Linked DNA regions of Homo sapiens: regions 1 and 2 are each linked to region 3. The links come from fine-mapping of genetic effects on gene expression. A gene starts in region 3. Each other region holds a variant in brackets. All regions are shown on one strand. Distances are from middle to middle. Region 1 overlaps GCSIR (GPR55 cis regulatory suppressor of immune response RNA). Region 2 has its middle 20 kb from the start of SPATA3-AS1. Region 3 holds the start of GPR55 (G protein-coupled receptor 55).

What was found.
Region 1: its variant is fine-mapped to the expression of GPR55 in whole blood (TOPMed, PIP above 0.99).
Region 2: its variant is fine-mapped to the expression of GPR55 in whole blood (TOPMed, PIP above 0.99).

Annotation. Positions count from the first base shown.
Region 1 is chr2:230,898,508-230,906,732 of GRCh38, forward strand. GCSIR (GPR55 cis regulatory suppressor of immune response RNA) reads left to right here. Exons shown (of 4, transcript NR_038238.1): 4 at 5,882-6,010. Among named protein-coding and RNA genes, the nearest start is that of GCSIR, 16 kb to the left of the region's middle. RefSeq lists silencers at 3,821-3,900, 3,971-4,030. The variant A/T (reference allele first, on the strand shown) is at 3,821.
Region 2 is chr2:230,972,139-230,980,363 of GRCh38, forward strand. No RefSeq gene overlaps it. Among named protein-coding and RNA genes, the nearest start is that of SPATA3-AS1, 20 kb to the right of the region's middle. RefSeq lists enhancers at 1,983-2,032, 2,153-2,292, 3,707-3,826, 4,931-4,980. The variant C/G (reference allele first, on the strand shown) is at 4,767.
Region 3 is chr2:230,920,569-230,928,793 of GRCh38, forward strand. GPR55 (G protein-coupled receptor 55) reads right to left here and starts at 4,674. Exons shown (of 2, transcript NM_005683.4): 1 at 4,600-4,674. RefSeq lists enhancers at 4,019-4,807, 4,371-4,490, 4,611-4,660, 5,481-5,710 and a silencer at 5,931-6,110.

The sequences.
Region 1 (8,225 bases), 22 kb before region 3:
GTACATCCTTCAACAAAACAGCTTTTGCTTCCTTCTTTCTTGTTTAACAATTCAGTAATTTTTAGAAAATTTATAAAGTTGTGCAACCATGCAACCATCACTGTCACCCAGCTTCCATAATAAACCTGAATGAGCTCCCTGCACTCAAGAGACCCTCACTCACCCCAGTTCCTTGTGGAAAGTTAGGGTGCCATGGGATCACAGAGGAGGGACCCCCAGCTGGGGCCAGGGGCTCCGAGAAGTCTTCCCAGAGAGACCCAAGGACAGTCAGAGAATTCCTGGGATGATGTGGGGAAGGGGGATCCCCATCACCTCTTTGACCTTTAGTGGGCAGCAAGGGCCAACATCTGACCAGGTGCCTCGTGCAGCAGGCATGGTGTAGACAGAACACTTTGTCAGATGCCGATGAATCAAGCAGCTTTCCTTTTCCTCCATACCCTCCATGCCCTCCTGTGGCAGCCTCAGTCCACCCCAGCGTCCTTAGACAGGGCCTTGCAGGCCAGGGCACACTGCAGGAAAGGGAAGAATCTGCACGTGGCTCCCTGGGGCCGTCGATGATGGGCTTTGCTGCCTGCACCACCCGAGTTTTCATCCAAGAAAACACCCTAACCTGGTATTTCCCAAGGAATTCAAGTGAAATTGTCAAAAGGGCTTACATCCCTGTTTTAAGGCTGTGGAAGAGGTCTGGCCATACAATCTCCCTCTCCCTTTCCCCTTCACCCCCAGGAAAGAGAGAATCTCCAAGCACCCATACCCAGGGCCTCTGTCTTCCCACTCCCCTCTCCCATCTCCCCATAAGGAGCCTTTCTCTTGCTGAAGCAGGAAACTTCATTTTGCTAACAGGAAGCTTCTTTGTTCCCTGCAAGAGAAACCAGCTCCAGCTAATTCAAGCAAAAGAAGGCTCTTCGCAGGGATGTGGAGCAGCTCACAGTTGCAAAGAGGTTGCTGAGCAACGTGCACTGCCTGGAGGTGACTGCAGCGGCCCTGGGCTTCCCTGGGCTCCCCCGCTGGCAGACAGAATCTGACAGCACGGTTTGGTGCAAGGGTCCCTGGCCTTGGTCCTTTGGATCACTCAGTGACAGGGAACAGGAGCCAGTCTGCTTCCCTATCCCATTAGAAGGATCTGGATTTGCTCCATTCACCCAGACCTGGGTTTCACCAGGAACTAGGGGTGTACATCATCTATGCCCAAACCCAGGGCACCCCTGAGTATACGGCATTTCCCAGTGGGCCATTAAGAAGATGCGCATACAGAAGAGATTGTTTTTCCAAGTGAGAAGATCCAGCTTGAATATACAAACTATTAGGGTTGTGCATGTAATTGTTTAAATGTCTCCTGTAGGAGTTAATGCATTTGGTTTTCAAGACATCTTTTAATTCCACAGAAGGTAACTCCTTTCCACTTTCACATTTCATGGAACATTTTTTCATCTCAACCTGTCACCAGCATCTTGAGTGTCTGTCTCCTCATCACCCCTGAGCCACGGTTTGAGTCACCGGTGACTTTCAGGGTACGTCACCTCCGTCTCCTCTCAGTTACAGAGATTCAGCACTTTTTAAATCCCCACATGATGCTATCACTGGAAATTGTATCTAAGTTGCAAGTGCCCCTTCTCATAATATTGAGGGACTTAAAGTTGTTAGTTGAACCTTAAGAGAAATATGAGAATCTTCTTAACTGGTGATTGGGGCACACCAGGAACCCCGGCATTATCATCAATCCTACCAGAGGGCTTCTGCACACAGCCAGGTATAAGGGGCTTGGAGCAAGCCCCTAGCTGTCTGTTATTATTAGCTGGTGCTATGGGGCCAGGACCCAGGGTCTTTGAGCCTGCGGTTGCTTCCTGGTCTGAAGCGAGGGCTGGGGCAGTGGTGATGACTGCAGCTGTCAATCACCAGGTATTTATCAGCTCTGCTCTGCACCCAGCCTGTGCCAGGCACACAGGGTGGACGGGAGCCACGAGACCTTGCTGTGAGAGGTGATTAAGAAGGAGCATTTCTACTTAGGACACCGGTGCAAGGGAGGACCAAATGAGGTGTAACAGACAAGGAGAGAATAAGCCTGTTCTCGACCAGGTGCAATTGAGTAGTGGAAGCCAGTGGGTGGGCTTGTGACAGCCCCTACTGGGGAGCAGATGGGTCGCCCCTTGATGGCTCAGGATCTTTGAAGAGCCCTGAGAGGATTTTGGAGTGGGTACGGTGGGCCAGGACACAGAGACCCAGAGTGGGTGTTAGCATGGGGTGCCATGCAAAAATCACTTACAAGGGCATCAGAGAGCTGGTGCTGCTCATGCCCCCATGGGCCTCAGCTTCCACGTCTGCACAATAGTTCCCTTCAAGCCAAGGTCTTGTTACAGACCTGTTTCTAGCCCCAACTCCTCCAGCTTTATGGGGTCACCCCCCCTTTTTAAATCTCCAAGCAGAAGGGCTTGTGATTTTATCCCACATTCAGTGGGAACCCTAGCATCTCCCATCATAGTCGTAGAAACTGCCAAATTCTCCTCTGAGCCCTGAGTCCTACAGGAACTGTCCTCCACGTGTATCTGAGCCCACAGGGAGCACATTCCCCCTTTCTTTCTCCAATAAAGGACAGCTGACTCCAGGGAGAACTGGTGGGAGACTTCCCTGAAGGCCAGGGGTGACGGAGATGGATGGTAATGCACAGCAACCAGAAACACCCCCCAGCCCCATCCTGCCAAGGGAGTGCTCCTTCCCTTATGCCACCCCCTCACCTGGTTTGGTTGGTTTCAGATGCAGTGCAGCCTTGGGAAGTCGGTGCTGGACCCCACCTGTGCAGCCTGTTTGCCGCAATTTCAGAGTCACTGGAGATACAGTATTTATAAAAGCGTTTCTCTCTTGGTTTGAACTACAGCTTTGCTCCCAGTTTCAATGTATATAGTCCTTGGAGGAACAACCCTGGCCAAGAAGTTATACCAGAGGCAACTGACCCCTAAGAGCAGGTGATGAAGAGCAGGAGGAGAGAGATGGCTGCAAGCTGGAAGAAGGGTGGTAGTTTGCAGTGGTGGGGACAGGGGATACCACAGGAGGGGATTAGGAATTGGGAAAAGGACTCACAATCGTGTCAAAGGCAGAATCTGCTGGGAGTGGTTGGGCCTTGGAGATGCTTGATGGGGTGACAATTAGGTGACCCCAAGTACTTTCATGAGAACTTTTATAACATAAGGTTAGGGAGCCGGATGCAGTGGTTCACACCCGTAGTCCCAGCATTTTGGGAGGCTGAGGCGGGAGGATCACTCGAGCCCAGGAGTTTGAGCCCAGCCTGGCCAACAGGGTGAAACTCCATCTCTACTAAAAATACAAAATATTAGTCAGGCATGGTGGCAGGTGCCTGTAGTCCCAGCTACTCGGGAGGCTGAGGCAGGAGAATCACTTGAACCCGAGAGGCGGAGGTTGCCATGAGCTGAGATAGCACCACTGCTCTCCAACCTGGGCAACAGAGCAAGACTCTGTCTCAAAAACAAAACAAAAACAAAAACAAAACCATAAAGGTAGGTAAGGTCATCCTCTGATAGTGGAACTTACTACATAGATACATGCCAGGAGGCAGTAATAGTAATAAAATATCATATAAGACGATGATGATGGTGAAACTGGTATGACCTACTTCACCAACTTAGATTACAAAATGGTCAAATTTCTTTTATTGCTTAATTTATTTTTCCCTATGGGTCTTTTAGGCAGAAGACTTGCCCCCAAATTACTCAAAGACCCCAGGGACCTCCTTTGCTTCCACACCTGAGGGAGGAGAGCCAGGGTTCCATCAGCCCCTGCTGCTGTTTCTCCAAGCTGTCACAAGGTG[A/T]CACTGTTGCAGCTTGGTGTCTCAAGGAGGGACGCTGCTGCCCCAGACGCTGGGATGCCCTTGGTGGTTGAGGTTCAGGCTTAAGACTCTTCTTAGTTATCATTTCACACTCGGCCATCCCTTCCCAAAGCATAGCTCCTGGGGCAGGGCGGCTGGGTTTGAAGGGGTGTCCAGTATCAGCCACGTTCCATGCTGGCCAGAACAGTGTTATCAGTTGAGATCCCCCTTAACACAAGGTGATTTATTTTGGGGGCCTCATTGCTTGCCCCTGCCACTGATTCTTGGATTGCCCTACAACTCCTAGACAGGTATCCCTGACTTTGCATCTCTGAGATTGGGGACTGGGATATGGGTGTCTTTGCTTTCAGAGGGCCCTGGGACTCTGCTTCCTATAGTGCGGCATACAAAGAGGGCCGGCCAGCTTCTCTAAGCCCCACAAACAAAGGTCCTGGGTCAGCCCAAACCCCAAGAGGAAGAGGATGGGACCCTGGGGGCTCACATTTGCATAACAAAGCGGGCACACAAATGATCCTTCACCAGAGGAAGAACACCTGTGCCCAGGTTCCTTATGTCTCTGCCTAACCCAAAAGTTCTCAACCTGGGGATCAGGAGTAGAATTCACGGGTGTCATGAACTTGCTGAGGGAAAACATTACATGCTATTTTCACTAATCACTAACTGAAGGTAGCATTTCCTTCCATTACGCACGTAGACATCACACCACAGTACGATAGATGGTGTGGTTCCTGGGACTTGTCACCAATAGACATCACAGATACTCTCATATCCCACTACAGTTGCTGCAGATAATTCAAAATAACTTCTCAGTTCATCATAAATTCAAAATTATGATAATCATTAAACCCATCACTAGATCTTGTTATCCAGTGCCTAAAGAAACATATATTGCTACGTTGGTGACTACATTTCCATATATCTGGTTTCCTCTCTAATTCCATGCATTTTTACTTGATGCATGTGAAACTGCCCTTCTGGGGAAGGTCCACAGGCTTCCTCCTGACTGCAGGAGGATCGATGGCACGAGATGAATTAAGACCCCATGGCCTGCTGGGCATTGTGGCTCACGCCTGTAATCCCAACATTTTGCGAGGCCAAGGCAGGTAGATTGCTTCAGCCCAGGAGTTCAAGACCAGCCCAGGCAACATGGCGAGACCCTGTCTTTACAAAAAATACAAAAATTAGCCAGGCATTGTGGTGTGCACCTACAGTCCCAGCTACTCAGGGGGTTGAAGCAGGAGGATCCCTTGAGCCCAGGAGGTTGAGGCTGCAGTGAGCTGTGATCATGCCACTGTACTCAGCCTGGCAGACAGGAGTGAGACTTTGTCTTAAAACGAAACAAACAAACGGAAAAACAAAACAAAAGACCTAGTGCCAGAGCTTTCATCATTCTCAGAGGCTGCCTAAAGCCCTACCTGAAAAGGATGCTAGGTTTGTGAGTCCAAAGGTCAGCCGGGGAAGGTGCAGGGCTACTGTGGTTCCCAAGAAGAGCCCAGACAAGCATTCTGCTGAAGGAGCCTCAGACATGAAGGTGCGAGAGCATTTAACGCGGAGGGCTTGGGGCCTGCAGGAGTGAGCTGCGTGCCCAAGTGTCATACGGATGCCTCTGTTGAAAGGCCCAGTCCTCGATGGGCACCATGGCTGTGACCAGTGTGGACTGAAACCCAGGGTTCTCTGCAAACAGTGCAGTCATCAAGGGATGCCCCAGCTAGGACCCGCGCAGGATCTTGGGGGCGGAAGGGATCCAGTGAAATGGAGCTGGAGCATCCTCCAGTAAACCTTGGTGAATTAGGGCAAGTTACGTTCAATTTGAAGAAATAAGAGAAGTGTGACTTCTACTCCAGGTTAGCCTAGAAGCCGTTCCTGTGAATTGAAGTGTCCCCCCCAAAATTCACATGCTGGAGCCCTAACCCCCAGTGTAACAGTATTTGGAGACATGGCTTTTAGGTAAAATGAAGTAAGGGTGGGGCCTGATCCTGTAGGATTAATGTCCTTAGCAGAAGAGACACCAGAGAGTTTGTTTCCTCTCTCTCTGCCTCTTAGGACACAGTGAGGAGGTGGTCATCAGCAACCCAGGAAGAGTGGCCTCACCAGAAACTGACCCTGCCAGACCTCGATCTGAGACTTCCAGCCTCCAGAACTGTGGGACATAAATTCCTGTTGTTTAAGGTACTCAGTCTGCAGTGTTTTATTATGGCAGCTCAGGTAGACTGACAACATACTTGCCATATATGGGTGTTTTTTGCAGTGTAAAGTCCCAGGGAAGAAATATCAATAGCTGACAGATCTCTTAACCATCAATTTCATCCCACTTTGTTCATATAATTGAAATAGTCCTGTCTTTGGGGTCATATACCCTTTAATAATACTCAGAGAATAATGACTTTGCTCCTCACACTCCATTAATATGGGAAGTCCTATTTTCTGTGGGTTCCCCCCTCCAGGCATCTCTGGGTCTCATGCTCTGCTGTAAAGCTCATACTGATTCCCCTTGGTGAAAGCTGTGCCCTGGCTGCGACTTGAAGTTGGTACTGAAGATTTAGGAAACTGAAGGAAATCCACAGCAAAGAGGCTGGTATCTACTGCCGAAGGGGGCCACACCCAGTGCCCAGTGCCCAGTGCCCAGCAACGCGTGGCCCATCTTGGGGAGGGAGAGGTCTCTCCACCTACCTAATGCTGTCTGGAGACCCATCCCCACAAACATGTCCCACCCTGAGCCGGTCCTCTGGAGCCCTCCTTAACCACTCCAGGCCCACTGGCCTCAAGGCTTCTCCACTGCCCTCAGGGAAACCCCTCCACCCACTCCCAGAACTGTGCTTTGGCTGGGGGCTCACACAGCGATCACTGGGTCATTGGACATCAGTTTTCCCCAGTCAGGGTCATTCCGTCTGAAATGCACTAGGCACTGACTTGGGGAATCGGCTGTTTGGAAAATCTGGGTTTAGCCAGATCTAGTCAACTCTGGCACAACTTTCCTAAACTCTGTGTGGCCTCCACCGGCAAGCCGCTCCGAGACACCACTTGAACGAGAAACGCACACGTGTGTATGCATTCTCATCTGCACTACGCACAGCCCAAAGCCACCTACTGAGAAGAGAGGCTTTTTGGAGACATCTGTCTGCACCCTAAGCAGCCTTTGCATAACTGTGCTGGCCCCGGTGGAGATGCAGGTCCCCCCTGCAGGCAGCGTCTTTGTTACACTCACTCAGGCGTGGGCCTCCGGAATAAAGCTGTCATCTGAAGCCTCAAAAGTGAACCAGAGCCGCGTCTGGCTTTGAAGTGACAGTGCTTCTGATCCTACCTCACGAGACTTCAAAGCACAAAGGGCCACGTTTCTGTCGTGACTCATGGTTGAGGCACCATGTGGCCTTTTCTGCAACAGCTTTGCAAGGAGGTCATATCTTGCAGGCTCCTGGCCTGGGAGGGAGCGCTCAGGCCTGCAGTGGGGCAGAGGGACGTCTGTTTTGTCCTTCCACTTCAAGCTCCTGGAGTCCCTCTTGACCTGCTATCCACACCCCCTCAAATGGCTGTTCATGGCTCTGTGCCCTCGGCTCACTAGAGAAGCCAGCTCTGGGTGGAAAAAGCCAGTGGGGCCTGTGATGGTAGTTTCAGGGGAGTGCTCACCCAGAAAAGGCACCTTTGGCATGTCTTTGAGTCCTCTGTCCCCCCGCAGTGGTAAGGTTGTCAAGTGGTCCCTGCCAGCCTTTATTTGGCCCTGGAAAGTCGCTGTCCACAGTACAACTGACTCTTGAGGACAGTTGAAGGGTGGTCTGGCGTGGGCATCCCCACACAGCTCCTCCTGCTATGGGGATGTCCCCACCCTTGCCTCTTGACTGTTCTGCACGCCAGCCTCTCCTCACACCCACACAGTGGCTCTGCCCAATTTCTTTCCGCACTGGTCTATTAACTGAATCCTTTTTAACCTCTAGGAATCTCTACAACTGTTATCAGGCCTCAGTCATTTCAAGCACCTTTGCAATCTCCATCCCTTTGTGGTCTTGCTACAAGGGTGTTATCTTACGCTTCCAGAGGTCTTTGGTATCCTGTGGCAATTACATAGTATTAGTATCATGACTTTCAGCTTCCGAGGGTCCCCAGAGAGGTAACTCAAGAGGAATATAGTTGACAAATGCACCTTGTGAACTGACATTCTCCAAGTCAAATCCTCCCTGGGGCCAAGCGGAGGTGGTCACTATCCCTAGGGGACGTGGCCTACATGGGGGGTGGCTCCTAGATTAGTAGGAGATGGTTAGATGGAGCAAAGATGTCCCCCTTGGCCCTCAGCACCCACGCCATGATCAGCTGCGCTCGGGATTGTGGGGAACTCAGGACAGAGAGTGGCCCAGGCCAGAGCCTAGCAGGGCACAGCTTCTGGGAGCTCTCCAAA
Region 2 (8,225 bases), 52 kb after region 3:
CTAGTTATAACCCCCAGTGTTGGAGGCGGGACCTGGTGGGAGGTGATTGGATCATGAAGGCATAGTTCTCATAAATGGTTCAGCACTATCCCTCCTTGGTACTGTGTAATGAGTGAGTTCTCACAAGATCTGGTTGTTTAAAAAGTGTGCCGCACCTCCCCCCTCTCTCTCTTGCTCCTACTCCGGCCACGTGGTAAGTGCTGGCTTCCACTTTGTCTTCTGCAATGATTGTAAGTTTCCTGAGGCCTCCTGGAAGCCAAGCAGAAGGCCAGCATCATGTTTCCTGTACAGCCTGTGGAATCGAGAGCCAATGAAACCTCTTTTCTTTATAAATTACCCAGTCTCAGGTATGTCTTTTTTTATTCTTTTTTCCTTTTTTTGAGACAGGGTCTTGCTCTCTTGTCCAGGCTGCAGAACAGTGGCATGACACAGCTCACTGCAGCCTCGACCTCTCAGGCTCAATCGATCCACCCACCTCAGCCACCTGAGTAGTTGGGACTACAGGTATGGGCCGCTATGCCCAGCTAATTTTTTTTTCTCTTTTTGAGACGGAGTGAGCTCTGTCGCCCAGGCTGGAGTGCAGTGGCGCAATCTGGGCTTGCTGCAATCTCCGCATCCCGGGTTCACGCCATTCTGCTGCCTCAGCCTTCCGAGTAACTGGGACTACAGGCGCCCACCACCACGCCCAGCTAATTTTTTGTATTTTTAGTAGAGACGGGGTTTCACCATGTTAGCCAGGATGGTCTCAATCCTCTGACCTCGTGACCCACCTGCCTTGGCCTCCCAAAGTGCTAGGACTACAGGCATGAGCCACTGCGCCCGGCTTATGCCCAGCTAATTTTTGTATTTTTTGTAGAGATGGGGTTTCACCATGTTGCACAGGCTGGTCTTGAGCTCCTGGACTTAAGTGATCCTCTCACCTTGGCCTCCCAAAGTGCTGGAATTACAGGCATGCACCATCGTGACTGGCCCAGTATCAGGTATTTCTTTATAGCAATGCAAGAACAGACGAATACACACGCAGTGGAGTATTACTCAACATTACAAAGGAAGGAGATTCTGACCCATGCTCTCATATGGATGAAACTTGGAGACATTATACTAAGTCAAATAAGTCAATCACAAAAAGAAAAATACCGTATGATTCCACTTAAAGAGGTACCTAGGGTAGTCAAATGCATAGACATAGAAATTAGGATTATGGTTGGTTGCCAGGAGCTGGGGGAAGTGGGGGATGGGGAGTTGGTGGTGGTTGTACTAGGTGAACATAACTTAATTCCACTGAACTCAACACTTACAGTGGTTACAATGGTGAATTCTAGGTTATGTCTATTTTACCACAATTTTTAAAAATAATTTAAAATCCATGATAAATAGAGTGACCATATAGTTTATTGTCTAAACTGGGACACTTTGGGCAATGAAAGTGGATGCTTTTAATAACTACACCTCGATCCTAGGGGTTAAAGAGACTGCCCTAGGTAGCCTGGGGGTTCCCCAAAATAGTCACTTCTCCACTTACTTCAGTTGAAAGTGTCTTCTTCGCCTGGTAAATATTCAGTACAGTAGCTATGGAAGAAATGTCACCATGAACGGTGCCAAGATATAATTATTCCTGTTCTGGAATGTCAAACTTTAACATTTTGGCCACAATATTCTCTTTTGATCACATTGTCATAATAATTTTGGGATAAAGTGGATGTATCCAGAAGTCCATTCTATGTTGGGACACTTGGCATTGCTCCATGCTTGTGTGGGGGTGGCACCTTTACCTCCCTGCCTCAATCCTCCCCTTCCCTCCCACTGTCCCCTTCCACCTATCCTTTCAGGTAGGTCTTACACAAATGGCCCCTCCTCTGTCCTGTCTTTCCTGATCCACCCTGTGGCATTTCTCCACTTCCAAACTTCTCTGGTGCTTTTACTTGGCGTCAGGTGACATGCGATAAGACCTGGATTAATTAGTTAATGTTAATAACATCTGCTTGACTGCCAATCCTGAAAAATACCGTAATTAACATCATCAACCAGCCATAGGGAAACCACCTTGGACCTCCCCGTGTAAACTACTTTGGGCAGTGCCTTGGGTTTTTCAAGAGTTTGTCAGGCACTTGAGGTTGAGGCTCGAAGAAAGAATATTATTTGATTCTTAGCCATGGTGGGAACCGACATTTATCTAAGTGTTTTTCATAGACAGGAAGTGGTAATTCTCACCCTCCCTGATCTGGGCTCTGACTCACTGGGGTGCCCCAGCCTCTGGGCCTGGGCTCACTAGTGGTAGCCAGCTGACCTGAGCATCAGAGTAAGATGCGTGCCTGAAAAATTCCCCTGGTGGGGCCGGTCATGAAAAGTGCCGTTCTCCTCATTCATGTGGTTTTGTCAGGATGCCCGGATTCCGCAGGCCCGGGCCAGTTATTTTGAGCACACAAGTCACTTTAAAAGACCCCTAAAGGTCACTGGTCCCAAGGATTATTTCACCCCCTCACCACAGTTAATGTCGTCTCCCCACCTCTGTTTTTCTGTATTCCCATAACACATTCTGAGTGTGGCTATGTGATGTAAAGAGCTGTTTTCATGCAAATGTTCAGGGTAACATCATGCATAGTGTCTTAGTTCATCTCCTGCCGCTATACCAAAATACCACAGACTGGGTAATTTACAAGGCACAGACGTTTATTTGGCTCATGGTTCTGGAGCTGGGAAGTCCAAGAGCGTGGTGCTGGTATCTAGTGAGGGCCATCCCATGGCGGAAGGCATCACGTCGTGAGAGAGAACACACGCGAGAGGAAGGAAAGAGGGGCAGAATTCCCTGATTTTATATCTAAGTCACTCCTGTGACAGCTAATCCAGTACCCCAATAATGGCCTGAATCCACTCATGAGAGCTGTGTTCCCATGACCTAATCACCACTTAAACGTGCCACTTCTCAACATTGTTGCACTGGCAATTAAGTTTCCAACACATGAACTTTGGGGGACACATTCAAACCACAGCACTTAGAATATAACAGGATTGCCCCCCTACAGCCATGAGTCCCTTGGATCACCAAGTTAATGTAACAATAACAAAGTCTAATATGATTTACAGGAAATTGGAAGCTTTAAGTAGCCTCGTGAAGCCAAAGGGCAGCATTAGAGCATATCTTTTGACACCCGAAGCTTGTGTCAAAAAGGGTATTAACAGTTGACCGCCTCACACCCACGAGGATGACTATAATTTTTTAAATGGAAAATAACCATTGGCAAGGATGTGGGAAAACCGGAACCCTCCTACTTTGCTTGTGAAAAATGTAAAACGGTGCAGCTGATGTGGAAATCAATTTGTTGGTTCATCAAAAATTTAAACATGGGGCCAGGTGCAGTGGCTCACGCCTGTAATCCCAGCACTTTGGGAGGCCAAGGCGGGCAGACCACGAGGTCAGGAGTTCGAGACCAGCCTGGCCAACATTATGAAACCCCGACTCTACTAAAAATACAAAAATTAGCCTGGCGTAGTGGCACATGCCTGTAGTCCCAGCTACTCGGGAGGCTGAGGCAGAAGAATCGCTTGAACCCGGGAGGCAGAGGTTGCAGCGAGCTGAGGTCATGCCACTGCACTCCAGCCTGGGTGACAGAGTGAGACTTTATCTCAAAAAAAAAAAAAAATTTAAACATGGAGTTTCCATATGACCCAGAAGTCCCATTTCTAGTATGTACCCAGAAGAATAGAAACACAGGTTAAAACAGTGACCAAAATGTAAAAACAGCCCAGCTGTCCATAAGCTGTAAATGGATAAACTAGACTGTAGTACATTCATAAAACGGAATATTTCATCATAAAAAGAAGGCACTACCAACGCATGCTGCAGCTTGGATGAACCTAAGTGAAAGAAGCCAGACACAAAAGGACACATATTGTATGATTTCATATGTATGAAATATCCAGGATAGGCAAATCCATTCGAGACGGAAAGTAGGTTGGTGGTTGCCAGGGCCTGGGGGAGGGGGAAATGGGGCGTGGTTTTTTAATGTGTATGAGGTTTCCTTTGGGGGTGATAAAAATGTTATGGTTGAATGAGACGGTGAACGTACTGAAGCCACTGGATGTACACTTTAAAATGGTTAAAGTGGGCCGGGTGCGGTGGCTCTGCCTGAAATCCCAGCACTCTGGGAGGCCGAGGCAGGTGGGTCGTCTGAGGTCAGGAGTTCAAGACCAGCCTGGCCAAAACGGCGAAACCCCACTTCTACCAACAATACAAAAATTACCTGGGCATGGTGATGCATGCCTGTAATCCAAGCTACTCGGGAGGTTGAGGCAGGAGAATCGCTTGAACTCGGGAGGCCAAGGTTACAGTGAGCCGAGATTGCGCCACTGCACTCCAGCCTGACAGAGCAAGACTCTGTCTCAAAAAAAAAAGAAAGAAAGAAAGAAAGAAAGAAAAATAAATGGTTAAAGTGGCAAATTTTATGCTATATAAATTGTGCCTTAATTTTTGAAAAGTTTACACTTTGAGTGAGGCAAGTGTTTGGCACAGAAACCACTTCTCTCCTGGCAACACTTCATAATCCTCCAGTGGCAAAGCCCCTCTCCGCAAACCCATCTCTCAAGCCACGCACGTCCCAAGAGACACAAGAACACTAGAGGCCAGACAGGAGGGGACAGCCTGCATTGTGTCCTTCACCCTTATTTGGACCTTCGCCCTATTGCCTTCTCACACTCTCAGAATCCAGAGGTCATGCCAGTTCAAAAGGAGCCGGTATCATGGAGACTGGGGCTCAGAAACCAATACC[C/G]CCAAATATGGCTCTGTGACATGCTGAACTGAAGAAGAAGCCACAAGATTTCTCTGACCTCCCCCAACCCCCGCCTCTGTCTCAGTCTGTCTCTCTCAAAGCACAGAATGAGGTTGTTCTCTGAAGTTCCCTTATCTGCCTAAAGCCCAGACTCACTAAAGAAGAAAACAATTACTCCTGGTCCCTTCCTAAATTTTCATGAACTGAACTCATATCCAGGAAGAAAGACTGACATCTATCAACACAGCTAGGCAGACTTTTGTCACAAACCGTTGTATACTCTGCAGGCACAACAGACTTTGTCCCAGGCCATTGTATGTTCTTCAAGCCCATTGAATTTCTCTAAAAATCACTTAAACTAAAATCATCCACACTGCCCCATCTCCCTTTCCCCTAAGAAGAAGGGTATATAAGCATATGTACCCCGCTGGGTTATCGAATAATCACTCTGCTACAGTTCCCCATGCTTGACACGTTAAAATAAATTCATAGTGTTTTATCTAATTAACCTGCCTTTTGTGAGTTGATTTTTGTGCAAACTTTCTGAGAGCGAAGGGGAAGTTTTCACGGGTATTGCATGGTCTTCTGAAATAACTAGCATTAATATAGATTAGACAAAAACCAACCCTGAACAGGTTCCATGTGACAGCAGAATGTTCTGAAATGGGAAGGAATGAATGTGAGCATGAGAGGTCTGTGTGAACGGATAATGAGGTTCGGGGTAAGATGCAAAGGAGGATATATATTATACCATCTTTCATATGGAAAGAAGAGAAAATGAATACGTGTATGTGTTATTTTTGTGAAAAGAAATACAGTATTAAACAGACACTAATGGAAGGCATTCACCGTGGAGGTGGGAAGGAATGGGGTAGAAGGGATAGGAACGGCAGTGAGGCTTCTCTTGTATATCTCATATCATTGTCACTTTTTATTTTTTTATTTTTTCAGAGACGGGGTCTCGCTCTCTCACCAAGGTTGGAGTGCAGTGGCTCACTGGAGCCTCAGCCTCCTGGGCTCAAGCAATCCTCCTGCTTCAGCCTCCCAGTGGCACACGCCACCGTACCCAGCTATTTATTTATTTATTTATTCATTTATTTATTTATTTATTTATTTTTGTAGAAATGAGGTCTTCCTACGTTGCCCAGGCTGGTCTCAAACTCCTGGGCTCAAGCAATTCTCCCACCTCGGCCTCCCAAAGTGCTGGGATTACAGGTGTGAGCCACTATTCTCAACCCATTTTTACTTTTTAACTACATAAATGTTTCACGTATTTTAAAAATAAAATTAAATGTTAAAAAGGTGGGATAAAGAATACCCTACAATAGAATGCAAAAGAAGGAAATCAAACTGATAACGCCTCAAACTGATACCACAACCACACAGAGCAAACACTCTGATTGTGGAGAAGGATCTGTTCTAAGAACAGAAGAACTATAGAAAAACTTCTATTTAGTATGTTTACTGTTAGCAGTAATATTGGTCTTGTAATTCTGAAACTCTTTTGTGCATGTATAGTGGAAAGCAAATAAGCAAATATATATTTTACTGACGGGGAAAAAAGATACTAGTAGTCAGTAAAGAAGTGAAAGAAAAACTGTAATGTTAAATTTGAGTAGGAAATATATCAGTTTGAACTTGTAATTTTTTTTAAAATGAGTTTTCTAATCCTGTCCACTGAATGACAGCCGAGTAGCAATGATCGCATATATCACCAGGTTCTTTCTTTCTCTATACCATTCACCACTAAAGGCACCAGGGCTCGTTAGAGAAATGGTAGATTCTAGGTCAGGGGTGAAAATGTACAACGTGAGCATGGAATCTCTTGTCACACCAGAAAGCAAAACAGTTTTGGAAGATAAATGTGATCATGTCAAAAGGATTCAGGAGCTGACCTGAGGGCTCCCACTGCTCAAATGTGGGATGATTTGAACATCAAAATGAATAACTGTAGTTTCAATTATAGCATTTTTAAAACTCCACGAACCCACAGTGATTAATGTTTTTAATATAGTGGGATTTGGAAATTCTTACAGAAAAAAAGGCCAGCTAGTAAATGTAGCAGGAATAAAAGAATGAAAAACTACCATTTTCCAACCTCCAATGTAATGCTTCCTTCAGGTAAGCATCACCAAGAGTTGCCAAAACTGTTTGGTGACTTGGATATTCAGTTAATCCTGTGACCATGTGAAGATTCTAAAAATTACTTACAAAAGGGGAAGCAGAGTGAGGATTAGTGATCAAACTCAGAATGACCAAGAGTGGCTGACATTATGTACTCCAGATGTGATGCCTGACATTATTTACTCCAGATGTGATACCTGACATTATTTACTCCAGATGTGATACTGACATTATGTACTCCAGATGTGATACCTGACATTATTTACTCCAGATGTGATACCTGACATTACTTACTGCAGAAGTGATACTGACATTATTTACTCCAGATGTGATGCCTGACATTATTAACTCCAGATGTGATGCCTGACATTATTTACTCCAGTTGCGATACTGACATTATTTACTCCCGATGTGATACCTGATGTTATTTACTCCAGATGTGATACTGATGTTTTTTACTGCAGATGTGATACCTGACATTATTTACTCCAGATGTGATACTGACATTATTTACTCCAGATGTGATGCCTGACATTATTTACTCCAGATGTGATAACTGACATTATTTACTGCAGATGTGATACTGACATTATTTATTCCAGATGTAATGCCTGACATTATTTACTCCAGGTGTGATACTGACATTATTTACTGCAGATGTGATACCTGACATTATTTACTCCAGATGTGATATTGACATTATTTACTCCAGATGTGATACTGACATTATTTACTCCAGATGTGATACCTGACATTATTTACTCCAGATGTGATGCCTGACATTATTTACTCCAGATGTGATACTGACATTATTTACTCCAGATGTGATACTGACATTATTTACTCCAGATGTGATACTGACATTATTTACTCCAGATGTGATACCTGACATTATTTACTCCAGATGTGATAACTGACATTATTTACTCCAGATGTGATAACTGACATTATTTACTCCAGATGTGATAACTGACATTATTTACTCCAGATGTGATATTGACATTATTTACTCCAGATGTGATGCCTGACATTATTTACTCCAGATGTGATGCCTGACATTATTTACTCCAGATGTGATGCCTGACATTATTTACTCCAGATGTGATAACTGACATTATTTACTCCAGATATGATACTGACATTATTTACTCCAGATGTGATACTGACATTATTTACTCCAGATGTGATACTGACATTATTTACTCCAGTTGTGATGCCTGACATTATTTACTCCAGATGTGATATTGACATTATTTACTCCAGATGTGATACTTGACTGAGAAGTCTACAGTGGCACCTATGCAGTACAGAACTCTGGCCAAAGATATTCAACCT
Region 3 (8,225 bases):
CAGTAAAAGACGACATAAAAGAGACAAAATGCCAGCTTCATAGTGAAGAGTAGGTGAAGGTAAGAAAAGAGATTTAAAATATAATTCCCCCAAAGCTTGGCAAGCTATCAATAGCATCAAGAAGTTAAGAACTTAAATATTTTCCAAATTGAATATTTAGGTTAAATCACCTTGTCTATCTTAACGGGACAAAAGGAAGAGAAGATTCACAGTAGAAACTGAAAATGAAAAAACTATAATATCACAATATAGAAAACAGAGGGGCAACCTCACAGAGGTTTATGCAAATTTATAAACAATTGTTAATACTCCCTATATTAATCTATTAAAACCAACCATCAATTTAAAAAAAACAAAATTCAATCATCTTTTGTCAAGGAAAAACACTAAGAAAATGAAAAGACACAGAGTAAAATGATAGCATAATCTTTGGTTTATCAGGCACATTTTGTGCTAGAAAGGAAGGGAATAGGACAAAGTAATTTTTTTTTTAGTAAAAAGAATTGAGAAAGTAACATGGAGACTCCACAAGAGTGAAAGTTACAATAAATAATGAAAACTTAAAACACTCAATTTCTGTTCCAATTAGCACAGCAAACAAGTACATAATGGGACCATGCAGGAAATGCAAAAGAAATTTTAAAAAATGGAAATATAATGTAGCTGGAGCCCTTAGTGCCCCTCCTGTGGAATACCCATGATCAAAATAGACAGAAATTAGAGCTCTGAACAACCCAACTAATAAGGTAGACTAGCAGATCAGGGAGAAGTACATCATAAATCAAGGGTCTATGCTCTCTTTAGAAGAATAGAAGTGTCTTTCACAAAATTTACCCCATTCCCGAGCACAGGCAATGGCAATTTTACACTCCTCATTCTCGGACCACAAAGAAAATAGCTGTTTGTTGGTCCTGACCACTTAGCTGCAGTGCCATATTAAAAATACAGGCATTTCTATGCATTCTTTTACACAGGCTCTTCACGTGTGAGTCAGAGACAAAATCAGACGTACATTGCTGAAATATTGTAAAGAAACAATATTTATACACAAAACACAAACGCAGTCACCACTTTAAGGAAAGTGGGAATTCCTAAGTGTTCTTTTAAACATGAAAGGGAGAAACGAGGTGAGCCAAGGCTACACTCAAAGATCCTGGAAGTGGAATGGGAGTGACCATGGCCAATGCACAGCTCTGATCACCCTAGGACCCGAGGCTGTCTGTCTGCAGGGGCTGAACTCGGAGGGGCTAGGGAACCACAGCATGGGAGAAGATGCAGAAAGGCCTAGAGATGCTCCTAATCCCTAGAGGGAAAGGCACAAGGTCATCCATCCTCCAGTGATCGTGACGTGTTCCACCATAAGACTTCACAGGGTCAGAAAAGGAATGGGTTCCAGGTGCTGCAGAAAGCAAACCTATCTCGCAGCCAGAGTGTCTGAGAGTAGACAAAGCAAAGCAGCCTCGTCATGTGGAGGGCTCTCTGTCACCAGAGGTATGCAAGCAAAGGCAGGGCTATGTGCTTATCCAGGGTGCTGTAGAGGGAATTCATGCACACAGCCGTGTCTTACTGAAGGGTGTTTTTGTTTGTTGATTTTTAACCCTGAAGTAGAATCTCCTTTCAATATAAGGCTGTTTTCCAATGTTTGGTGAAAAGGAGAGAAAGTATGTGACGTGTGGAAAGGGACTGGGGTGGAGCACAGAGGCCTTGCTTCTCCTCCTGGCTCCCTCTGCTTGGGGGTTTCCGTCTCATTTCTTCCATCCTCAAGGCCCTGCTCAGCCCCGAGCCCGGAGCCCTGGCCTCAATGTGCTGATTTGTTTGTTTGTTTAAGTTAGCATCTTGCTTTGTCACCCAGGCTGGAGTGCAGTGGCACAATTGAGGTTCACTGCAACCTCAACTTCCCAGGCTCAAGCAATCCTCCCACCTCAGCCCTCCGAGTAGCTGGGACTACAGGCATGCATCACCATACCCAATTAATTTTTTATTTTTTGATTTTAAAATTTATTTTTATTTATTTATTTATTTTTGAGATGGAGTTTCACTCTTGTTGCCCAGGCTGGGGTGCAATGGTGTGATCTCGGCTCACTGCAACCTCTGCCTCCCAGGTTCAAGCAATTCTCCTGCCTCAGGCTCCTGAGTAGATGGGATTACAGGCATGTGCCACCACGCCCGGCTAATTTTGTATTTTTCGTAGATACAGCGTTTCTCTATGTTGGTCAGGCTGGTCTCGAACTCCCGACCTCAGGTGATCCACCTGCCTCCCAAAGTGCTGGGATTACGGGTGTGAGCCATCGCTCCTGGCCTAATTTTTTATTTTTTGTAGAGACAAGGTCTTACTGTGTTGCCCAGGCTGGCCTCAAATTTCTGGGATCGAGCAATCCTCTTGCCTCTGCCTCCCAAACTGCTGGGATTACAGGCGTGAGCCCGAGCACCCGGCCTGTGCTGGTTCTTAATTGCTGACTCTACACATTCTGCAGCTGGGATTCCCGCAACTGCCAGTGGTCCATGGTACCCTCATCCGCCCACACCCTCAAGGATCCAGTGTCCCACTTGCGGCAGCCCTGTGGCTTTGCCTGCACAGCTGAGACCTCGAAACCCAGCTATGTGGCTCCACACCAGACCTACCTTTCTTCCCTCTGTGGCCTGGACTTTCCAGAGAACACAAGCAACAAGAAGATCACAACCCTAAGGAGGGTTGCAACTGAGAAGGTGGCCCTTCCTGCAGCTGCCAGGCTGTTATCTGCACAGAGCATTGCAGCGTGAGCCACCTCAGAGATGGCAGGGCCAGAGCCTAAAAAAGCAGCATTGGCACAGCCGCAGGGATGGATTTGAGGAGCCCTGGAATACTCCCCCAAAAATGCCGCAGTTAGAATACACAGCGTATCCACCAGTAACACCATAGTGTGAATAAAGTCATCCGCCTGTGCCTGAGCTGGGCTTCTGGGGGCCACGATAGAAGAAGGAACAGGACACAGAGGGGACAGAGCACATGACCACAATCTCCCCAATGCCTGAATGTTGCTGGAGCTTGGGCTGGGGGGTTGGAGTGGGGCTGGGAGAGGGGAGGGGCCGGCTTGGGGACGTGAAAGGTGGCCAGCAGTGTGCTCAGTGATCTACGATGGGAACTCAGGACACTCCTAGGAGATTGCCCTAATTATGCCCATTTTACAGATAAGGACAGTAAGGCTTAGAGATGTTAAAGATTCTACCCAAGGTCAAAAAGGCCGTGAGGGACCAGCTGGAACTCATGTTCTGAGTCTCTCCTCCTCGCTCACCCTGGCCCCCATCAGCATCACAAGCAAGAGCATCTGGGATCCAGGAGTTGCCAAGCCCCCTCCTCACTTCTTTGCATGCTCATGCTCCTCTTTCTCCTTGGACTCTCTCCTCCACTGCTAAAAATCCCACCTCTTCCTTGAAATGCCCACTTCCCAGGTTCACCCACATCATCTGATGTGGTTTTCCCAGTGCAGTCCTGAGTGGGTGCCTTGAAAAGTCCTCTGTGTATCCCAGGGGGAGCGTGTCCCTGCTGTCCTCCAGCAACCCCAGGACCAGGACCATGTCCCTTTCACCTTTATCACCGAGCCTCACATACAGTTTGTCGTTGGGAAGGTCTTATTGCATGAAAGAGGGGGTGAAGAAATGACGGAACAAATGGCCAGGTCTGCTGCAGCTCCACAGTGACTGGTGCTCCCTTTACAGCTGGGACAGCCGCTCAGAACCAAAGGCAAACCTTGCCTTCCACAGAGCTGTGGGCGGCACTTTGCCCTGCCCTGTCCTCTCATCCCCACTGCCTCGGGCAGCACAAAGCCCAGGTGAAGCCAGGCCAGCCAGACATGTCCTGACTTTGTGTTCTCACTCTCAGGGAAGAATCTAGAATGTTCAGGGTTCTAAGTGCTGCTGTGTCTTCCCGCCCAGCCTCTCCAAGAGACACTTGGCTAGGGTTAGAGAACAATGCAGCTATAATGTAGGATAGCAACCAGGGCTTTCCTCTCCATCATTTACTGCCCTTGAGCGCCCCGTGAGGAAGAAACCGTGTATTGCCTCATGCCCCAGAGAGGTAAACGGAGGCTAGAGAAATTACGCAGCTGGTGAGTGGGTGAGCCTGGGCTCCCAGGCTCCTTCTGGTCCCCAGTAAGCACTTGCTCAGGGCTGCAGGATGATCCCTGAGAGTGTGTCATCTCGGGCGCTTGGTGGTTTCCCAACAAGATTCTGGGGAATGGGCGGCGGGCTTGGTGGAGGGCGGTGGCACGTGAGCTACATGCCCCGGGAAGGCTCCCAGGCTGCCTATGGGGAGGTTTCCCGACCCGACATGATGCTGCAACCCTGAGTCAGATCAGGAGGAAGTTGAGGGTTCGTAGAAAAATGTCACTCGTAATCGGGGACAAACCAGGTCTGCCTGCCGCTGCTGCTGTCACGGAGGCTGCCTGGAGGCTGCCGCTGCCCTGACACCTGGGACTGCTCGCTGAGTTGGGACAGGTGTGCACAAAGCCCAGGCCCACACAAGCCCCACTGATCTTAGGAGAGTTACCTGCAGTCCACAAGAGCAAGGTCAGGTTGGAGGCTCCGTGCCTTAGTTTCTCTAAATGGCCCAGAGGCTGTTACCTGTTGGTGGTCCGGTGCAGCTGAGAGGGCTGAGAGATGTCATTTCTCCTCCAGGCCTGGCTGTCAGCCTGTTCTGGGGAGAGTCACTTCCCCTCTCTGGGTCTCGACTTCCTTGTGAGTGAAATAAAGGGGTGGGACCAGATGCTCTTTGAGCCGCTCCAGTGTCACCCTGTCTGGCTTAGGGGCTCTTGCTCTGGGGTCTACAGAGAGGCTGTGTGGAACTAGAGTGTGGACATGGGGAGCAGTTTCCAGGAGGAGGGTCTACACTCTCCCGCCCTCTTGGAAGATCTGCACGCCCCCCTCCCGCAGCTCCAAAAAACAAAACAAAAAACCAAAAAGCCAAAAATCACACTGCATGTGTCAAGCCCTGGGAAGCCTCTGGAGGAGGAAGCCTCCTACGCACCCCAGACACCCTAACAGGGGCACCACACAGGGGCAGCCATTCTCAGCACCTGCCAAGGGCCGTCGTGGCTTCCAGCACTTTGGGGGTTTAGGATTTGAAACTGCTGCCCACAGAAAGGAAAGGAAGGTGGTGCTATTTAGTACTTGCAGGTTAGGACTTGCGTGCCTAGCGTCGGAGGAGACCTCAGCCACTGCATGTGTGTCTGCAAGAATGGTCAGTGGGGCCCCACAGGTTCCCCAGCCTCGGCTTCTCTGTCCCAGGCCTGCACAGAGATTTGGGGCAGCCTTGGGCCTGTGGCTTCCTAGGGCCCTGCAAGCAGAGATTTCCCTGGCATCTCCCACCTTCAGGGCTGGGAGGGCTGAGACTCACCCGTGGGCCTGGGTGGCTCTTAGCTGGGAGCCCTCATAGATTCCAGCCCATCAGGAAAGTCTGGGCTGAAACTACCCCGGCAGATGCAGCTCTCATGCCCTGGAGGTGCTGGGAGGCCCTGTCGGAGGACCAAACACAAGCAATTTTTAAAAGCTATGCGTGCTGGGACTTTCAGGTGTCTACAGGAATAGAAACTACTCCTGGGTTTTTTGGATGATTCATCCAACACATGGGTCCCCTCTGTAAATAACACCTTGCAAGTCACTGCAGGGGAACCACCTGGCCCTCTGGAGCTGGGTCTTCCCACTGTCTGGTGAAGAGGTTGATGGAACCATGACAACTTTTAAGCTCTCACCTGGGCTTGTGCGATGGGCAGTGCCAAGTCCACTGCCTGCTCCAGGCCGTGGAGCCCCAAGCTGGCCTGGGTGCCAAGACAGGGCACAGGGCAGTCCTGCCCCCAGCGAGGCCCCCCTACTGGGCCACCAGCCCAATCTAAGCCAAAGGCTGGCTACTGGGCAAGGGGGGGCAGCCAGGCCCGCACCCTGGGTGCGGGAGGAGGCCAGGAGCCTGCTGGGACAGTAGCAGGGAGGAAACACACCGGTGTCTGGCACCCACCTCCATACCCAGAGCCTGCAATGTGAGGCCCCAGGAAGGCATCCACACTGAGTGGCCTGCAGGGAGCAGTGTCTCTGCTCAGCCCCTTCTCAAAGGGAGCCTTGTCTACTCCCATTCTGGCTACCTTCTTTTTTTTTTTTTTTTTTTTTTTTTGATACAGAGTCTCGCTCTGTTGCCCAGGCTGCAGTGCAGTGGCACTATCTTGGCTCACTGCAACCTCCACTTCCCGGGTTCAAGTGATTCTCCTGCCTCAGCCTCCTGAGTAGCTGGGATTACAGGCTTGTGCCACCAGGCCCGACTAACTTTTTTCGTATTTTTAGTAGAGACAAGGTTTCACCATGTTGGTCAGGCTGGTCTTGAACTCCCGACCTCGTGATTCACCCACCTCGGCCTCCCAAAGTGTTAGGATTACAGATGTGAGCCACCGCTCCCGGCCCTGGCTACCTTCTTTTAAGAAATGAATATTTCTACTTTATTGCTGTTGCAATATTAAAATTTTTAAATTTTTAAATTTTTGAAAACATGCACATGATTCAAATACATATGTAAACACATATAGGAAAATATCTGTCCCACTCCTAAATCCAGCTCTCACCTACCCCCCAGGGCACCACTGTTAAGTTTCTTCCAGAGTTTCTGTGCCCGCCCGTGTACACCTGAGCTCTTATTTTCTCCCTCTTTTGACACAGAAGCTAGAGACCACACGAGCTGCTCTGCAGTAGAAGGCATTGTCCACCTCCCTCTCCTGTGGGTATCCCTTGGATACCTTGGGGGATATCCAAGGTATATGGGGGATCCCTTGCCAAGATACGTCTCCAGAGAGACTCAAAGGTTTGAGCTCCTAAGAGCAAGGCTAGGCAGGGACTCGCCCAAGGCCCCGTCCTAAGGCTCAGGCCTGTCCCTCGAGCTTTTCGCCTCCCCTTGCCACAGGCCTGGGGAGTCATAAATAGGAAGACCTTTCTCAGAAAATTTCCCTTAAGCCTCCTGAAACTTCTCCCCCTAGTCCTGCCCACCCTCTCACCATCCAGAATCACTTGGAGGTTTTGGGAGCCTGGGCAGGTCCCTGCCTGTCTTCCAGGCTGGGAGCCCCGAGTTGGGGGGTTTGGGGGCACACACCTTCGACTTCACCAGTGGAGCAGCTTCGGAGCTTCAGGAACCAGCTTCTTCTAGGGCAAGGAACAAGTGAATCTGACTGTGTTTATCAAAGAGCGGGTCCAGGATAGCTGGGCGCTCACCACATCCTCCCCTGACGCTGGTGAAATTCGCTCCTTCAGCAGCCAGAGGCCTGGCCCTGCCCTCGTGGGGCATCCTTTCCCTCCAAGGGGGGAAACCTGCCCACCAGGGGGTTTGCAGGGTGACCACTTGGCCCAGAGCTGTGCAAGAAGTGCTCCCAAGCCTGCCCCAGAGAGCTGGTCAGGGAACAGGGGCAGGGGCAAGAGCTGAACCCTAAGAGACACGGGGAGGGAGGAGGATGCTGGAGGAGGGCAGCCCAGGTGCAGGCACAGGCAGGAGGGGCACGGGGTTGGTGAGGGCCCGGGCACCCTCTGCACCAGGGTAAGGGGGGAATGGCAGGAGCCGAGGCTGGAAGCTGGCCAGGCAGGAACCAGGGGCACGGGCCGCCCCGGGGTCCCAGGGAACACACGCTTGGCACAGGGGCAGCATGTGACAGACCCACTGGGGCAGCAGGGGTTGGGTTGGGATGAGGGCACCAGCAGCAACAAGAAGGAATGAGGGCAGGAGTGGGGGCGTCAGAGTGTCTGAAAGAAGGATCCAGGGCATCTGAGGCAGCCGGACTCTGAAGATAGCCTCAGCAGGTCTCTGGCCGCCACTCCCCACAAAGCAGCTCTGTCAGCTTGGGCTGGTTGCCTAACCTCTCTGAGCCCATTTCCCCAGCCGCAAATTGGAGTTACACATCCATTCAATCAAAAAATGTTTGTGGATCATCTCCTAGGGACCAGGCAGTGGTGGTGAAGACAGATGACAGTACCTGTCTCAGAAAACGTTGTTTTAGGAGTCGGCATGGTAACAGGGGTAAGTGTACCCAGGAAGTGCCTGGTACTCAAGCAGTGACTGAGGCCCCCATTCCTCGTTGATTTATGCCTGCCTTTGTCTCCCCTGCTGGGTCTATTTGAAGGAAAAGAAAAAAAAAGGAGGAACATTGATAATGAGACCCTCATGATCCAAGGAAAAGGGGTCCTAAAAATCAGAGGAAGCCCCAACAGAGAGAGGAAGGCAGGGG